Linked DNA regions of Homo sapiens: all the other regions are linked to region 2. Evidence: fine-mapped expression QTL. A gene starts in region 2. Each other region holds a variant in brackets. All regions are shown on one strand. Distances are between the middles of the regions. Region 1 overlaps LMBR1 (limb development membrane protein 1). Region 2 holds the start of RNF32 (ring finger protein 32). Region 3 overlaps LMBR1 (limb development membrane protein 1).

What was found. PIP is the estimated chance that this variant, and not a neighbour inherited with it, causes the effect.
Region 1: its variant is the best candidate, but not a certain one, in a credible set for the expression of RNF32 in lung (TOPMed, PIP 0.67).
Region 3: its variant is the best candidate, but not a certain one, in a credible set for the expression of RNF32 in prefrontal cortex (ROSMAP, PIP 0.55).

The regions. Positions count from the first base shown.
Region 1 is chr7:156,677,106-156,683,464 of GRCh38, forward strand. LMBR1 (limb development membrane protein 1) reads right to left here. Exons shown (of 17, transcript NM_022458.4): 17 at 686-6,359. It overlaps RNF32 (ring finger protein 32), which reads left to right. Exons shown (of 9, transcript NM_030936.4): 9 at 1-25. Among named protein-coding and RNA genes, the nearest start is that of RNF32-AS1, 20 kb to the left of the region's middle. The variant G/A (reference allele first, on the strand shown) is at 2,167.
Region 2 is chr7:156,636,975-156,643,333 of GRCh38, forward strand. RNF32 (ring finger protein 32) reads left to right here and starts at 3,800. Exons shown (of 9, transcript NM_030936.4): 1 at 3,800-3,837. It overlaps RNF32-DT (RNF32 divergent transcript), which reads right to left and starts at 3,561. Exons shown (of 4, transcript NR_026865.2): 1 at 1,974-3,561. RefSeq lists an enhancer at 3,231-3,822 and a silencer at 3,391-3,700.
Region 3 is chr7:156,818,321-156,824,679 of GRCh38, forward strand. The region is part of intron 4 of LMBR1 (limb development membrane protein 1); the gene reads right to left. Among named protein-coding and RNA genes, the nearest start is that of LMBR1, 72 kb to the right of the region's middle. RefSeq lists an enhancer at 2,368-2,868. The variant G/A (reference allele first, on the strand shown) is at 3,137.

The DNA of each region.
Region 1 (6,359 bases), 40 kb after region 2:
TTCAGTGGTATTCAACATCAAAAAAGTGCAAATTTTAATGTCTTAGAGCAATAAAGACTGTTTTAGTTCACACATTTTAAAAAAAAGTGAACCTTTTTGGATAAGAATTGTTTTTGTCACTGGTTTACTATTACTGGGAGCTTGGTTATTTACAGTAACCAGTTACAGTCTCATCGGTTAGGTTACCCCTAGCCGAGTAACAGATAAAGCCCCAACTCTCAGTGGCTCGCTGAAGACACATGATTTCTGAGGTGTCCAACCCATGTCAGCCATGGGTGAGGCAGGGCGAGGGTACACCATGTGTGACCCTGGCTCCTTTTGTCTTGTGACACAGTCTCCTTTGCCCCCGAGTCCCCAGTGAATCCTGTCACTGCTGGTGGAGGGGCAGGAGGACATTGTTCCAGGCCATGCTTGGGAGTGGCGCTCATCACTCCAGCCACAGTAACTACAAGGGGCAAGGAAAGGGCAGGGTGTAGGCCTAAGAGGAAGAGGCCAAGTGGGTGTGCACATGGCATGGGCTCAGAATAACCCAGCATCTAATGTGAGAAGAAATGCCAAAATTTCTATTTATTCTTATCTCATCCCTTAGAAAAAATACTCTCCTATGTTTTGTGATGTACACATTATATAGCTACATATGTATGTATCATTTATGAATAAATATGCATATATTGGGATGTGCTCATTTTTTAAGGATGTATACTATCAAAAAATTTGCAGACTAATTTGGAGAATGCTTTAAACAATGAGTAAGCACTTTTATTCTAAGAGAGCAGAGGGAAACTGAATCACAGAACCTCAATTTTCTGTAAGCTGACATCTCTCTCCCCATAGCGTTGACAGGCAAAGCACAGGCACGTGTCAAAGGCCAGAGCAGTCCGATTCCGCCGCCCTAAACTTTGGATCTAGAAGGAGAGTCCCGGAGATACATGGATCATTCAGTGATGGGAAGAGCCCAGGAAAGGTTGTGCCTAAGGCTGTGCCCAACACTTCTTCCGGGGCTTTCTCATCACATCTGTGAGCCATGCCATCCACCCCGTAAACCTTCCGTGCCTATGTTGGCAGAGTCCATCTCTATTCTTTGCAACCAAGTGCAGTACTTTACTGACACAGGAACTAGTGTTAGTTGCAGGCAACAGATACTTAGGAAAATCGGTGGGATGAAAGGCAGGAATGGTCATCTAACTTCACTGAGGATGAGGGTCGCGAAAATCCCATGAGTTCTGAGGAATGGTCCAGGGCAGCCTGTGACAGTTAACAGAAAATCAGGCAATTTTCTTACTGAAAAGTGGCCATGGAATGGCGCGCCCATCGAAAGCTTGCGAGACCAAGTTGCAACCACAGAACGCTAAAAAGGACCTGAATGAAGTAGCTACTTCTCTGGACAATTTGAAGATAACGCCACATTGTCAGGTCAAGTCAGGAAAACAGTGCAAGCTTTTATACAATTACTCCACAGCCTCATCAGGTCTCTTCTATAAAAACTGGGACACTGACCAAGAAAGAGTGGGGCCTTTGGAAACATGAGTTCATGGGAGGACTCAGCGGACAGGGAGAGCCCTGTCTGCTGCCCTCATTGTGTCTTCCTGGTCAGCTACAGCAGTCCCTACGGGATGTGGCCATTCCTCCCTTATTTTAACAGGTTGGAACCCACTTGTCTGACAGTCACCTTGCAAGATGAAGCCACTTCTTGTGCCTTCTCACACATCCCTTTTTGCCTTTAAATCCACTTAATTAGGAGCCTACCATTCCATGGGCGGGGGGAATCATTAAATCACTATCAAGTCCAGAAAGAGAATTCTTAGCGAATTGTGGGACTGGAGGCATTTGATAAGAATAAAGGTTATAATCTAGAATGAGGATACCTGTCATGAATCTTTATCAACCAGATAATAGAACTGTAAGGTACATGAATGAACAAGAAACTGAAAACCTAAAACAAAGAAAAAATGAGACTGCGGTTGTACTGGCCTGTATTTACATCCAGTTCATCTGCCCACTGTAAGCGTGACCCCAGGCAAATGTCTGCAGCTTTCTCAGTGGCGTTCCTTGTCGGTAAAATGCAGATGTGTATTTTCGGCTTCGCAAGGTGGTCCTGGGGGTGACTGTGGGACGACAAAGAACTCGACCCTCCACACCACGCCCCAGGCCCCTCTCACCACCCCT[G/A]CTTCCAAGTCTTTGATGAGATTCCACAGTAAAGACTAAAAAGAAAAGAAAAAGTGAATCACTCTTCAGACTGAAGGATAGCCAGGCCAGAGAGGTGGCGAGGAGGAAGTGAGCAGGAGGAGGACGATGCTCCACTTGTCACTTAGTTCTCTGACTCTACTGTGGAGTCCATATAGAACAACTGTGGATGACTTCAAGATGCTGTTAAAGAGAAGTTGCAGAATCAATATAAATAGCTACAGCAGTATCAAATATGCTTGGTTCTGAAGTGTCAGTGTTTGTAAGCGGCATCGTTCATTCAGTAACAGCTTTTCAAAGGAAAGGAAAGGAGAAGACATTACAACAGCCACAAAACAGTTTTAGTAACTGTTAAAACTTCAGTTCTCAGACCCATAGCCCACACGTGACTCTCCACCTCCTCACACTCAGACACAACAGATTCTTCTACATCACTCTAGTCCTCCACAACCACTCACATCAGGGCCGCCCTGCTGTTCATAATCCAGGCTCATAAACTTGACTTCTGTACCACCTTTAGAAGTAACAGCAGAACACCAAATCCATATCCAAGAATAATGAGGTTTTGTGTGAAGTTCCTATTTGATTATAGTTAACCTTGAAAAAATTTTTTCCTAATTAAAGAACACAGAATTGGAAGTTAAATAACTTCTCTTGAAAAGGTAAGTTTATTGCCTAATATTCCTTCAAGACATATGGATCAATCACCAAGTTTTGAAATTTTGTATATATTTGTGAGTTTTAGGAACTTCTCCTGATATTACATTTTCTACAGTGCAACAAGTAATTTGCGTACACAGTACTTTTGCTTCAGTTGTGTTTGCAGCAATAATTTTTACCTAAACAATATTCAAAAACCAAAAAAAAAAAAAACTCCAAAAAGGTCTTTGTATTATTTCTTCTTTTAAACCACATTCCAAAGGGATGCTTTTCAAACTGAAGTCTGCCATCTATTAGGAGGCCACAAAGTAACTTAGTGTCTGTGTCTAGTATTTTTAAAAATAATAAAACAGAAGATGCCAGCATGCACACTTAGGAAAAACAAGTACTGTCTTGTTAAATTTTTGCTTATACGTATCTGAGAGACAGAGAGAGAGAGAGAGAGAGAGAGAGAGTGTGTGTGTGTGTGTGTGTGTAATGGGTTATTTCTTACTGTGGTCAAAAAGTTGAAAGCCACTGTAAGTAGGCTTCTGTCTGCCAGTAAATTAACCAGATGCTAACAGCATTTATTCTTCCAGGAACTCTGGGTTAAGCTGTCCAGACCACAAGTAGGTGCTGTTCAGTCCTTTTATGGAAAAAATTAGAGAAATCAAGTCTAAATAATTCAAGTAATTAAATAAAATACATGCTATCAATTATTGATGCTACATTGTGGGTTATAAGAAATTGATCTACCAATAACTGCACAACAGAGAAAGAAAATATCCATTTCTTAATTCAACATTCATCAGAATAATTACTGCCCTCTATAAAACTGAAATGGAATTAAACTATAAATACCCTTAAGTTTTAGCCATGATAATATTTAAGATGGAAAAAACAAAAGAACAAATAAACCCCACATATAAATGCTTATAAACCAAATATGAAATCACTTTTTGTACAACTTTTAATTTCTAAGACATTTAAAAAGTCACACTAAAAGTATCTCATAGAAACAAAGACTAACAATTTGTAAACAAAACAATCTGTAAACAAAAATCAATTACTAGTGTGTCCAAATGTTATTTTTAAAAGTTAACATTATACCAGTTTTTTCAAGTTTAAAAAGTCGGTGCTGCATCTATGTTCACATTAAAAAAAAAAACTTGTAAGAATTCTGCCTTTATGCATTAAATAACGTGCTACCAACAAAACTAGCACATAAGAGCCTGTAAATGATGAAAACCTGTGTCCCTGGCAGACGAGGTCATCACTGAGGCTGCAGGGAGGGCCATGGGCACCCAGCAGATGGGGAGGCCGCACTGCCGCTGAGAGCAGGTACACGTGCGCCTTTAACACATCTGAGAGCAAAACGCGAGAGGCTCCGTCCATCTCTACTAACCAGCACCTTAGTGCAGCAATTTAAGGAGCTAACATTAGTGTGTATGTGTGTACAAATTTCATGTAAAGCCTCATATTTAGAGGTCTATTTTTACAGAGAATGTACATAAAGCTACGTAAATAGTAAATCTAAGAAGTATCTTGGAAAATCAGTAAAAATTAATACAAATGTTATAATCTGAAAACTTATAATTGTAAAATAATTTATTTAAGTATTGCAGAACCAATTAATAAGAATCTGCAAGTTTTCCCCAAGAAACTCTGGAACCATAGTGCCTAATGCCCTTTAAAATCGATACTAAAGGAGAGAGAATAAAAGGACTGCTTGATGTGACAGTCACTGGTGCATCCCTATCCAGTCAGAAACAAAACTGTAGCTCCAGAATTGACCTGATGATGAGCATCTGCAGCTCTGCCTTCCAGGGTCTATCTCCTCTCTTTCACTGGCGTGCAGGAACTGCAGTAAAATGAGGACCCCCAGAGCGACTGTCCTTACCAGGACTCAGAACGTTTGGCCTCCGTATTCTGGCATCCATTTCTGGAGTTCGTCATATAAAGCAGCCTCCGACCTAGCTCCAATGGAAGCACCTGCATTTGGAGTCAGTCTCTCCAGAGGCAGATGCTTGGGCATGTGCTCAGGAAGAGCCTCGAGGAACCGTGATTACGCAGCAGCCCAAGGCTGTAACAATCTATTTGTTCTCAAGGCATATGAGTCCCAGGTTCGAAGCCGTCCTTCCACCCCATGCATATCCTTTGCTTCAACAGCAGTGAGGATGCCTCCAGGAAGTGTATTGTACTCAGGGCTTACAAATCCAAAACTGGCTTAAGTCCTCGGATGGAGAGAAACTTCCAAATGAACAAAAAGTTGAGCTAAACACTGAAAAGTTTAGTATTTTACTTAAAAATTTTCAGACATTTTCCAAGTATCTAGGAACTCTTTGGATGTGCCTGAAAGTGGTGTAAGTGAGAAGTGATATTACTCTACTCCTGAGTTTCTTTCTGTTCTTCCCTTCACTTGGTCTGCTCAAAGTATGGACTCCAAGCTTCACTAAAAATCAAACCTGGCAATTAATACTTCAATAGGCATAACAATGAAATTGGAAAAGAGCTGAATTTTATTAACTTTTTAGGTATGTCGATTTTATGCTGAGAAATTCACCAGTACTATACTGGTGGTATTTACTGAAGCTTGTTTAGAATCACAAAATGAATGTTCTTTTATTTTAAAACCAAGCTGCATTTTAGAAAGATGTGAAGCTCGGAAGGAAATGCAGACGTATAAATAAGGGGGAAGTGTACTCAACAAAGGTTGTAAATATACAGATTAAAGTTTCTTATTATTTTGGTTTAAAGTGGAAATTTCTGATGTCAAATAGACACAGCCTGCGTTTCATAAATTTCTCCCAGAAAACCTTTAAATGTAACAATTTGAAAAAAATGTTTTACTTTTGTCTGAACACAGACCATCTATTTTCATACACACAGTGCATGTGAACATATTTATATAGCAGACTGCATAACTACGAATTGTGTGCAAATGGGCCCATCTCCTATTTTTGCATGCACAGATTTCGGTATTCTATCCTAGTGGATGGTTGACACAGAGTGCAATTTCATAGTTTTTATTCAGTGGACTTAAAGCCAAGAAACCATCCCAATAATTATTTACAATTTAATAACTGAATGATTATCAGATCGTGTTATACTGCAAAACTGTTCTTACACCATGAATGCTGATGCTGTGAACTTTGGATGTTAAACTGGTAAAAGCTGGAGGCTTCAAATGGCATATGCAAATGTAACCAAAGCCTGAGGACTATGAAGAAAGAGGAGTTTCTACCACTCGGCATTTATAGTTTTTATATGCATTGCAGAAGCATGGGGAATTAAGTGATCTCTGAAAAAAATGCTTTAAAAAACTGAGTATACATATAGCCTATAAGGTAAAAATCCAAGTTACAAGTGTATTAAACACTGGCAACTATGTTATCAGAGGGAATACTGAATTATATATATACATAAACTGTCATTAAACTGTGATTACATGATACTTCCTACCACAGCTTATTAGACTGTACAACAGAAGATATTCCTGTGGCTCTCTAAGGCTCCAGGTTTAAAAGAATTTAGTA
Region 2 (6,359 bases):
AATCCATAGGCCAGGCACGGTGGTTCACGCCTGTAATCCCAGCACTTTGGGAGGCCGAGGCAGGCGGATCACCTGAGGTCAGAAGTTCAAGACCAGCCTGGCCAACATAGCGAAACCCCGACTCTACTAAAAAATACAAAAATTAGCTAAGCGTGGTGACGGGCACCTGTAATCCCAGCTATTCGGGAGGCTAAGACAGGAGAATTACTTGATCCTGGGAGGCAGAAGTTGCAGTGAGCCGAGATGGCGCCACTGCATTCCAGCCTGGGCAACAGAGACTCTGTCTCAAAATAAATAAATAAATAAATAAATAAATAAATAAATAAATAAATAAATAAAAATACAGGGCCAGCACTAGTATCCAATATCATGATCTCTAGTGTCATCATGAAGAAAACCCCATCTTCCACAAGCTGGACTCCAACTGCCTATTCTAGTATTTGAACACTTTCTGTGAATTGCGCTCTACACAAGCAAAATATAAGATTTTCCCTTCATATCAATGTCTTCCACTTAAATAGTCCGCTATTGCCATCCATCTTGGGCTGCTCTTCCTTGGATAAGCACAGGTATCATCACTCTTTTTGTGATAATGTTTATACAACAGATCTCTTAGAGTACCACCCGCAGCTTTCTTCTTAAGCACAGTGGAGTACAGAAGTGCATCTTAATCAGCCAAGTACACTGGTGCCCTTCTCCTTGTGACTAAGCACCTCAACATCCTTAACATCATGCACCTCTAATTTTCTCTTCCGTCTCCACTATTCCTAGGACATTCAATTAGTGGTTTTGAAATTCTAAAACAATCATGTGGGTGCTTACACAAATGGCACTGAACAGCACCATGGAGAATGTACTCAATAGCAGTTTTCTGAAGATGTAAACATGCTTTGTATACATGCAGTTTCTCAGGCCCATCTCAAAAAAACAAAAAAACTTTTTTAAAACAAAAGGCATAATGTTAAAATACAAATCATTGATAACATGGTTTTGGGGACAAGATAGGTTGACTATATTTTTAATTATCCCTATCCAAGAATGTTGCATTCTGATCATCTAACTCATTTCAACAGAACACACTATCTTGAAGAATGAATGTATTCTTCAAATATCAACTATGTTAGCTTTGTTTTTGTCAAGAATTAGAAAGCAATAAGGTTAAATTTTCAGTCAAGCCTATACTTAACACAAATCGATTGCACATTTCAAAATAGCTAGAATAATTTGAATGTTCCTAGTGTAAATAGAAGATAAATATTTAAGGGGATGGATATCCCAATTACCCTGATTTGATTTTATGAATTTATCGAATTATCACGTTATCCAAAAACATGTTCATCTAATATGTATCAATAAAAAATAAATTTAAAAATAAAAAATTCACAATATTCTTCGTGGCTAACTGAAGAATGACCAATTTATTTTGAATAGAAAACATGCAGACAGAAAAACTATCATGAAAATTTAAACATGTGAACAGAGGGTAGGAATTTTAAAACGGTAATTTTTCTTAGAACTTTAAAGTTCAAGAAAAATACCTTAAAACCAACATAAAGAATAGCAGGCACTGTACTAAGCAGTTCACCCACAGTATCATGTTTTAATCTCACCACAGCCATAAGGCGGTAATAGCATGCATAGATATCATTCCAATTTTTCCTGTTGCAAGTAACAGAAAACCAGACCCCATCTGGCTGAAGCCAGTAAGAGAAAAGACTAACAGGAGGGCCAGCCTCAGGACTCAAATACGTCACCAGGACATGGGTTGCGTCCCAGTCTCAGCTCTGCCAGTTCCTGTAGAACCCTCCTTCCAAGGTTCACAGGGTGGCTACCATAGCTTCAGGCCCTCACCTCATGATAAGACAGCAATACAACTGCCATTTCATGTCTGTTGCTGTTTCTACATTCAGTTAGAATTAAATAAATTTTCCAGTAGCACCCACAAAAATACTGAGTCCACCTGGTTGGCCTACCTAGATATATCGCCAGCCCTGATCAAGTCACTGGTCACGGGCCTGGATTTTCTGGTTCGCTTAGGCTAATCATACGTCCCATCCCAGGACTGAAGAAGTACCAGGGCTGTTGCTGGAGAGTGGCTAATGTCCCCTTTACAAATAAGGAGCTCATGGTTTAGGAAGATGAGCTTGCCAAAAATCACACACTTGTAAAATAAGTCAAAATTTGAACTTAAGTCTACTTATCTGAGCCCAAAGTCTTACAACCATTTATGGCTGTTATCCTAACACCTACGTCGCGGAACGGAAGAGTCCTAAGACTGCAAAGACCCTTCCTTTTCTTCTAGATCCAGTCTAAGTTGGTTGGTAATTTCTTTAGACCCTGCTTTCAGGGAAGTTTAAAAAAAATTACTTGCATTTGTATATTTTCCTTGTATTTTCGGCCAAATTTCTTCTAATTAAAGTACAACATAAGTTGAACCAACACAATAATTGTCATATTAAGAAAAGATAAAACAAACTTTACTCATTTCTGCTTCTGGGCATGGAGTGTGAGGGACCAGACTTAAGTTCTCAAACAACTACAAAATCAGACCAAAAAATACAATGGTTTCCAGGCACCGGACGACAGGCAGTGCAGGGCTGTGATCCTTAAGAGAAGGGAAGCAGCGAGCCAGAGTATCCAGGCCACAACCCAAATGGAGGCCAAGAGAGGAACAGCAGAGGATACAGAGGGAGGGTTCCAGGGGCCAAGACGCAATCCGAGGGGAAGCCCTTCCGGGGAGAGCTGGAGTCCTGGGGTGGCCTTCTCGAGTCTTCCCGAGCAGGTCTGTGCAGCGAGGAAACATCCGAGGCTGGAGTGAGCCACGCGGAGGAGGAAGAACAGCCCGAGCTCACAGGGGCGGGGAAGAGTTCTAGCTCGCGACAGCCCCTGGGAGGAACCCTGCACTATTTGTGGCGTCGAGTAAAGCACCGGAAGGCTCTGCTCAGGAGCGTGAACGACACCGCCCGCTGCAAGCCTGGAAAGGAACGCGTTGCCTCAATTCACTCCGATGTGTCACACACGCGGCTCAGTCACCTAGGGAGCAGGAAAAGGCCAGCGGGCCACGCAGGGCTCACCCGGGCCTGCATCCAAACGCAAACGGCCAGGCCCACGAAGCAGGAAACACAACCCGCAACGAGAAGCAAAGGGATCCACAGAGAAGGGCCAGGAGTCACGGACGACGCCAGGCAGTCGGCGCCTGCGCTTCCGCGAGCCAAGACGCCTGAGCGGCGCGGGGGGATCGGGGGATCCCCCAGAAAACTGCCCTCGACTAACAGCGCAGCGAAGGGGCGGTGCGCTCGAGACCCTGGAACGGGAACGACCACAGCCACCGCAGGGAAACAACCGGGGCCCAGGCCCAGGTGGGCGGGCGGCTGAGGAGCGTGGCTGCGCCCACAAAGCCGCCGGGGGCTGCGGACTACAGCGAAGCCGGCGCGGGGCTCGGCCCTCACTACACGAGGCCTGGGCGCCTGCACGCCCCCGTGCTTCAGCCCGCGGCTCCCGAACACCCCCGCCAGGCGATCCCCAAAAACGCCCGCTGCGCGAGCCTCGACGGGAACGCACCTGCGTCTAGACGCTGACGCCGTGCGCGGGGCGGGGGCCGGCGAGCATGCGCAGTGTGGTGTGGACAGGGCGTGGTTGGCAAGCATGCGCAATGTGGGCCGGGCGGGGCTGGCGAGCATGCGCAGTATGGGGCGGGGCGGGGCAGGGCTGGTGAGCAAGCCCGCGGGGAGCGAGCGCGGAGGCGGGCGTTGCTACGGCAACGGTGGGCGGCCAGGGAGTTGCCTGAGGGAAAAGGGGCAGACGTCCCTGGGTTCCGGTGTTCGCGGAGGAGTCGAGGCACGGAGAGGCTTCGGGGGAGGGACGGAAAGAAGGGTGGCCCGCCAGGCGGGCGGGGTCCATGGATTCGGGGTGAGGGCCGTCCGCGGCCTCGCTTTCGCCTCCTCCGAGCCGGGCCGGCGATGGCCGCAGCTGTGAGGCGAGGTCGGGTCCCGTAGCGGCGCGCAGCCTCCTTGGGGGACTCGGGGTCCTGGTTAGTTTCCACAGCTCCTTCTATCTGAGGGGTACGAATTTACGGCTGCCTAAAGCCTTAGAACAGTGATCCCACGTCGGTAATTTTAGAACCCGGTAGGACCGGCTGCCATCAGGGGCCCCAGGTGCAGGGTGGTGTCAGCTTTGAGAGGAATTGGAGCCTCGTCACCGCGCGCTTCCTGCATGAGTGGAACCTCAGAAAACGGTCAGCGGGGTTCAGAAGGCAGGAGATAACACCAAGACCCTACGTAGGATTGCATCTTTACGTCGTAGGCTTGGTCTCGTGTATTTTTATTGAGCGTGTTTAATTAGCTGAGGTTACTCGCTTTGGCACCCCAGTGATCGTTTTTGCCACCAAGCTCTGCCTCTTGAGCGTTTAATACTGGGATTTACAAAGCAACGGGTTCCTGTTAATCTTAGCTTTCAATACTGGGCAAGGGTTACGTTTCTAACCCTACCAGTGCCGCAGGCTCATTATATATTGAAGGACTCACCTGGTATTTGGTTTTCTCATTTATAAAGTGGAGTTGGAGTAGGTACTTGAAGGGTTTTCAATACCTTTAAATTCTGAATTTTAAACTCTAAAACTTAATGATACCGTAGGACTTTAAGAGAGTATAGGTTTTAAAAGCTCTTACCTTGATATTAATGACAGTGGTCTACTGTGTAGAAACTTGAGATTAAATTGCAGACTGCAGCTATGACCGGACCATTTTTAGTGTGATGCAAACTGTATCTTCTGCAGGTTATAGGCATTTTGGAAGCAGGAACTGAGAAAATTCTGGCAGTGATCTTTCAGTATTTTAAATTCCACCATTTCTCCAAGTTCAGTTGTCTTGATGAGATACAGGGTGGAACTTATTTCAAACATCTCTTGATGCCAGAATTGAACGGGAACAGAAAAGGGCTGTAGTAAGAACCATCATCAAAGCCTCCAGGACTTGAGCAGCGACTGACGTTTTTACTTCTAACCCTGGATATCTCAGAGATTTGGTTCCACTGTGCTTTTCTATCTCTCCACTCACGCCTTAGTGAGTTTGTTCTTTCGGTTGGAGTAATTTAATACAAGTGTTAGTCCTTAGAAATACATTTTGGATTAATTTCTTTCTATTTTTAGAGTTAGGCCCTCAACACAGTAAGTCTTCACTTAACATCATCCATAGGTTCTTAGAAACTGGAGCTTTAAGCCATGCAGTGTACAAGGAAACCAGTTTCACCATAGGTTAATTGATATAAATAAGAGGAAAGTTCCCACAGCACATTCCTGGTCACAAAAACATCGCCAAACTTCTAAATAAAGACCAAAGCACTTCTAATATGAAACACTGAAGTACATATGAGCTCTACATTTAAGAAATATCATTACCCAATTTCTGGTGAATCCATGAGTGACCGGGTTGTGGAGGGGCTGTGTTAAAGATAATGTTGGCCAAGCCAAAGCTCTGAAGCACCTCCCCCTACCATGCAGTTTCAAAACAAACAGGAGCCACTTCTCAGCCCGCTGGGCCTTTCTTACTGCATCGGGTATTGTCCTGCATCTCTGTGTGAATACCGTATGCTTTACGAGTTTTTATTTGACAATAATTTGTATCCTTTCATTTTCCAACCTGCTTATTCCAGTTCAGGGTGGCAGGGGGCTGAGCCCATCCAGGCAGCTCAGGACCAAGGCGGGCAACAGTCCTGGAGAGGACGGCATCCCATGGCAGGGCACACTCACACTCACTCAGACGGGGACGCCCCAGTGAGCCTCACGTGCACAGCTTTGGGATGTGGGAGGAACCCGGGGTACCTGGAGGAAACCCACAGCACATGGGGAGGACGTGCAAACTCCAAACAGACAGTGGCCCCTGCTGGGGATCAATTTTTTTTCTCATCAGCGTTATAGGGAAACAACATTAGAAGAAATATGTTCAAGGGCCTTCTGTGCCAGTTCCTAGATTACTTGAATAACTTTCTATTTCTCCTCATCACAGTATATTTTGAATACATCTGTCTTCATAAAATACACCATGTCCAAAATCTAAAAGGGCCAATTCCAAATTATTCCACCAGCTTTGAAGGGAATTGAAGCAAGAATAACAAGAGTAAGTTCTGTGTGAAAAGACCTACTTTAGATACTTCAAAGGTTGTCTCATTAATCCTTGCGGCAACCCTGCAAAGCCAGCGTTATTATACCTGCTTTATAGATGAGGAGCCTGGGGCTCAGCTGTGTCCAGTATCTTGCGCAGCAAAGCGGTAGAGTTCAATTGGAACTCAAGTTGGTCTGTCCCCATATTCTGTACTTCTGTGTTCTGGACAGACTGAAGTTAGCCAGTGTTCCTCTTGCGTTC
Region 3 (6,359 bases), 180 kb after region 2:
AGTGACTTGTCGGATTCATTGTGGTTATATTTTAACAGACAATCTCAAACTGGGCATTCATGTCACAAATGTTTGTTTTGTCTCTATCTCTGGTCATAAGTGAGTGGACAGCTTAGCCAAAATTGGGCCCCACTGGGGAAAAATCACTCAAAAACTGAAGAATTATTTCCTGGTTTTATTTAAGGGTACAATCTAACTCCATCATTTTCCTATCTTCCAAATTTTTATTGTTATTTAGCTCTTATTTTGATATTAAACTCACATTACTTAAAATTAGCGATTTTAAAGTGAACAATTCAGTGGCATTTGCACTGAACTGTTCATTTGCAATGGTGTGCAACCACCACCTTTACCTAACTCCGAAACATTTTTATCACCCCCAAAAGGAAAACCCACAAAGCAGCTGTATCATTGTTTTTCAACTTATGGAAATGAAGAGTTTCATATTTTCCTATTAATTTTTTAACAGTACACAAGATATAGAAAATGTATAGAAGTGGATACTTTATTTTTTCGGTCCATTTTTTAACCCTTTTTCCTATTTTAACAACAAAAAGAACTTACACTACCATTTTAATTTGTCATCTCTGCCCTATCCTACAACAAACTACAGTTGCTGGCATGTCATGGACCCACACTGTGTGAATGACAGAACACATCTCACAGCATCAAGCTGACAAGTGATGACAACCACCAGCCAAAACCCAGAGGCCAGAGGATCATCATCAGGTCTCCTAACTCCAATGCTCCAATGTCATTTTTCTGTATCACATTTTTCAAGCTATTTTCTCACTGCAGACAGAGATACATCTTGCTTACATGACACAGTTTACTAAGGTTATTATTTTATTTGTGTTACAAAATTCTTGCCCAGAAAAGTAAAGTAGCATTCCAAGGTAATATGGTTAACACATAACATCTCAAACCTGTATCCAAAATCCAAACACTATATTTAAGCCAAACTAAATATATTTGCACATACAAAAAAAAGCATTATCAACACATTTAGCCTCTAATCCATATGTGATTTACACATTAAAGGCACAATCAAAAACATCCATACTGACAATTTTATAAAATAAGCCATTAAATTTCCTTTCAAATTCACTTTTGCCAAAATATTCCTAATGATATAATTATAATGACTTTTATTCCTTCAATCAATCAATATTTATTGAACACTTTCAACATGAAAGTACTAGAACAGATGCTCCATGGGAGATTAAAGGAATCTGAACATTTTCTGAGTACTCACAGAATCCCATAAATGTCACAAAACTGTAAATGACAGATTGACAAATGAATATTAGTGATATAACTGTGCTCTGGGGAAAAGGAAATAACCAGACCGTTCGTGAACTTCTGGACACTGGCTCTGAACTGACACTGATCCTAGGAGACCTTCCCTGTGGCTCTCCAGTCAGAGTAGGGGCTTATGGAGGTCAGGTAATCAGTGGAATTTTAGCAGAGGCCCAACTCAGAGCGGGTCCCTGAACCCATCCTGTGGTTGTCTCCTCTCTTCCAGAAGGCAATTAATGGAATGGAATGGCTAGCAGAATCCCCATACTGATTTCCTGACCTGTGGAGTGAGGGCTATTATGGTGGGAAAGACCAAGTGGAAGCTACTAGAACTGCATCTACCTGGGAAAACAGTAAACCAAAACCAATACTGCATTCTTAGAGGGATTTCAGAGATTACTGCCACCGTCGAGGACTTGAAAGATGCAGGGGTGGGGATTCCCACTACACCCCCATTCGATTCTTATCTGGTCTGTGCAGAAGACAGACAGAGCTTCCAGAATAACAGAAGATTATCGTTAAGCTTAACTAGGTGGTGAGTCCAATTACAGCTGCTGTACCAGATGTGGCTTCATTGCCTGAACAAATTAACATGCCACCTATCTGGTATGCAGCTACTGATCTGGCAAATGCTTTTCTCTCTGTCCCTGTTAGTAAAGACCACTAGAAGCAGTTTGCTTTCAGCTGACAAGGCCAGCAATACGCCTTCACTGCCCTACGTCAAGGGTATATAAATTCTGTAGCCCTGTATTATAATTTAGTTCACAGAAATCTTGATCACCTTTCCCTTCCATAGGATATTAATATCACACTGGCCCATTATGTTGACGATATTTTGCTGATTGTAACTAGTGAGTGAGAAGTTAACAACCACTCTAAACTTATTGGTAAGACATTTGTGTGTCAAAAAGTGGGAAATAAATCTGACAAAAATTTAGGGGCCTTCTATCTCAGTGAAATTTCTAGGGGTCCAGTGTTGTAGGGTATATGGAGATATCCTTTCTAAGGTGAAGGATAAATTGTTGAATCTGGCGCCTCCTGCATCAAAAAAGAGGCATAACATCTAGCAGGCCTCTCTGGACTTCGAAGACAACACATTTCTCATTTGCGTGTGTTGCTCCAGCTGGTTTACTGAGCGGCCTGAAAAGCTGCTGGTTTTGAGTACAGCCCAGAAGGAGGGAAGGCTCTGCGGCAGCTCCAGGCTCTGTGCAGGCTGCTCTGCCTCCTGGGCCACATGACCCAGCAGATCCAAGGGTGTCTGAAAGGGCAGAGGCAGAGACGCATGCTGTGTGGAGCCTTTGGCAGGTTCCTCTCAAGGTGAACTGCAGCACAGGCCCTTAGGATGTTGGGGCAACGCCCTGCCATCCTTGTGGGTAACAACTGCCTTTGAGAAACAGCTCTTGACCCACTATGGGGCTTTAGTAGGGATTGAATGCTGAAACATGGACCACCAAGTTACCATGGGACCTGAGTTGCCCATCATGAACTGAATGTTTTCCGACCCACCAAGCCAGAAAGTTGGGTGTGCACAGCAGCATTCCATCATCAAATGGAAGTGGTACATGTCTGGGCCTAAGTAGGCCCTAAAGGCACAAGTTACATAAAGAAGTGCCGCCAATGCCGACGGTCCCCACTCCCGCTACGCTGCCTTCTCTCTCCCAGCCTGCACCTACAGTCTCCTGGAGAGTTCCCTAAAATCAGCTGACGGAGGAAGACCTGGGCCTGGTTTACAGATGGTTCTGCATGATATGCAGGCCCCCACGTTAGTGGACAACTGCAGCACTACTGCCCCTTTCTGGAACATCCCTAAAAGGACAGCGGTGAAGGGAAACTCTCC[G/A]ATGGGCAGATCTATGGGCTGTACATCTGGTGGTTTGCTTTGCTTGGAAAGAGAAATAGCCAAATGTGTGATTATTACATATTAATGGACCATGGCCAATGGTTTGGCCAGATGCTCAGAGTCTTGAAGAAACACAATTGGAAAACTGGAAATAAGAAAATTGGGATGAGGTACATGAACAGACCTCTTTGAATGGGAAAAAAATGTGAAAGTATTTGTGTCCCATGTGAATGCTCACCAAAGGGTGACCTCAGCAGAGGAAGATTTTAATAATTAAGTGGATAGGCTGACTGGCTCTGTGGATACTAGTCAGCCTCCTTCCCCAGCCACCCCTGTCATTGCCCAATGGGCTCAGGAACAAAGTCACCATGATGGTAGGGACGGAGATCATACATGGACCCAGCACCTTCTACTCACCAAGGCTGGCCTGGCTACAGCCACTGCTAAGGACCCAATCTGCTAACTGTGACTTTTGTTTTCCAAATCTCCCCACCAAATATTTATTTATTTAAACACACACGAACATGTTTATACACATACATTTCCCTAACACAGACAAAACAATTAAAAGACAAATTTCCATAGCATTGTAATGTCCCATATTGCACAAAATACATGCCTTTGCTTACGAAAACCTTCATAAAATGTATGAACTTTTTAAAACCTAGTAGGAGCAAAGTATTACAAAACTACAGTCTTTAAAACAATATGGCACTGGCATAGGAATAGACAGACAAACCAGAGGGAAAAAACAGAAAGTAAAACTCAGCATTTATTTCCTGCTTACTCTTGGCCACCAGGCAATAGACTAGGTACTTTATACTATACATATATTCCACTTACTACATATAATAATTCTATAAACTAGACCTTGATATGGTCATTTTATAGATAAAAGACTGAGACTCTGAAAGCGTAAACAATATGCTCAAGGTTGCTAAGGGTTTCAGACAGATTTGAAATTCAAGCCCAGGTCTATCTGACTCCAAAACCTGCATACCTGAGCCCAGAAACAAACGCTAATATAATATTTAGCTTACTGAAAATGAAGCATAAAAAATCAGTACAGAAAAGAATATTCAATTAATGGTATTGGGACAACTAGCTGTCATATCTCAGGGTGGGAAACAATCTTCTAAACACAAAAACAATTAGAGACACCAAGAGAAAAAGAAAAACCAAATATTATAAAAAATATTCAAATTCTGGAAAAAAGCAATTAATATTAAAAAGCAAAATAACAATCAGAAAAACATGTAAAAAATTGAAATGAAAAGCTGATGTGTTCAAACAAAGAGATCATAAATTCAATATGAAAAAAGCAACAACCACAAAAAAGGGCAAAGGACATTAATCAAATAAAATATACATGGGCTGGGCACGGTGGCTCATGCCTGTAATCCCAGCATTTCAGAGGCCGAAGAGGGTGGATCACTTGAGGTCAGGAGTTTGAGGCCAGCCTGGCCAACATGGTGAAACCCCCTGTCTCTACTAAAAATATAAAAATGATCTGGGCGTGGTGGCACACACCTGTAGTCCCCGCTCCTCAGGAAGCTGAGGCAGGAGAATCGCTTGAACCCGGGAGGTAGAGGTTGCAGTGAGCCAAGACTGCGCCACTGCACTCCAGCCTGGGCAACAGAGCAACACTTCATCTCAAAAAAATTATAATAATAAAATAAATAAATAAAAATAAAATGATATATGTATTAGATATTTTTCTATATTTTATAAATTAAAATTAAAATGTCCTATCTGACTAAAAATTTTTTAAATTAACATTACAATAATGAGAAACTACCTTCTACCCATGAAAATGGAAAAGATTTTAAAGATACTAATATTCACTGTTATTAAGTTTATGGCTAAAAACAAGAGGCACCTTCATGGTCTATCAAGAGAATATAAACAAGTAATTCTAGAAAACAGTTTAGCAATTAATACTCATTAGCCTAATAATTTTCATTCTAATTTCCATGTAAAGAAATTGTCAGAAACCCAAATAATAATGAAAATTTAAAAATCCTCTAGATGCTCAACAACAGTTTACTGGTGAAGTGAAATGTTTCACAAAGAGGACAGGGTGGGTTTGGTGCCTGAGGAACAACTCAGCTGTTTTCTATTGCAAATCTGAAAAAAATGCAGGTAGCAAGTCACTGGAGGGATAAATGGTTCCACCCTTTAAAATGACGAAATAGCCTTTGAAAACCACTAGCTTAATATATTGCTAAATACATGGCTCAGGTTACACCACTAAAAATGGTTTTGAAGAACATAAAAGGTATGGAAAACACAATATAATATTAAAGGTTTTAAAGGTATAAACTGCATATGCTATATATAATACACACATGCAGCCGGGCACGGTGGCTCACGCCTGTAATCCCAGCACTTTGGGAGGCTGAGGCGGGCGGATCACAAGGTCAGGAGATCGAGACCATCCTGGCTAACACGGTGAAACCAGTCTCTACTAAAAATACAAAAAAATTAACTGGGTATAGTGGCAGGCACCTGTAGCCCCAGCTACTTAGGAGGCTGAGGCAGGAGAATGGCATGAACCTGGGAGGCGGAGCTTGCAGTGAGCTAAGATCGCACCACTGCACCCCAGCCTGGGTGACAGAGAGAGACTCCATCTCAAAAAACAACAACAACAACAACAACAACAACAACAACAATATATATATACACACGCGCGCGCGCTGAAAAAATGTGGAGTTTTCCTTGTTTCTACATTTTAGTATTTTCTATATTCTGTATAGTGAGCACACACTACTTTATGAGCAGAAAAAAATAAGGGAGCGGTTGGTGTTGCTGTTGTTCTTAATACACAGGGCCACAGTCTCAGCAGAAGCTTACGGGATTGCTAAGGTAGCATCACCTACAAAAATTATCTTCTATACTTTCTCAAACAACAAGAGACAGGAAATAAGACAAATAAGTATATTTATCTTACATATAAAACTAGTAATCTCTTAAATTTAAACTTGCTTTTTCTTCCACTGGATTACAGCACCATGAACATAATAGCAATGAAAAAAGAATATACATTATTAGTCTAATGCACCACAGCCTTCTACAGCAACTCAAGTAATCACGTGTCACACATAAAAAGTGACATCTTGGCAACATGTCTAGTCCCGGCACTTTGGGAGGCCAAGGTGGGAGATCACTTGAACCCAAGAGTTCAAAACCAGCCTGGGAAACATGGCAAAACCCTGTCTCTACA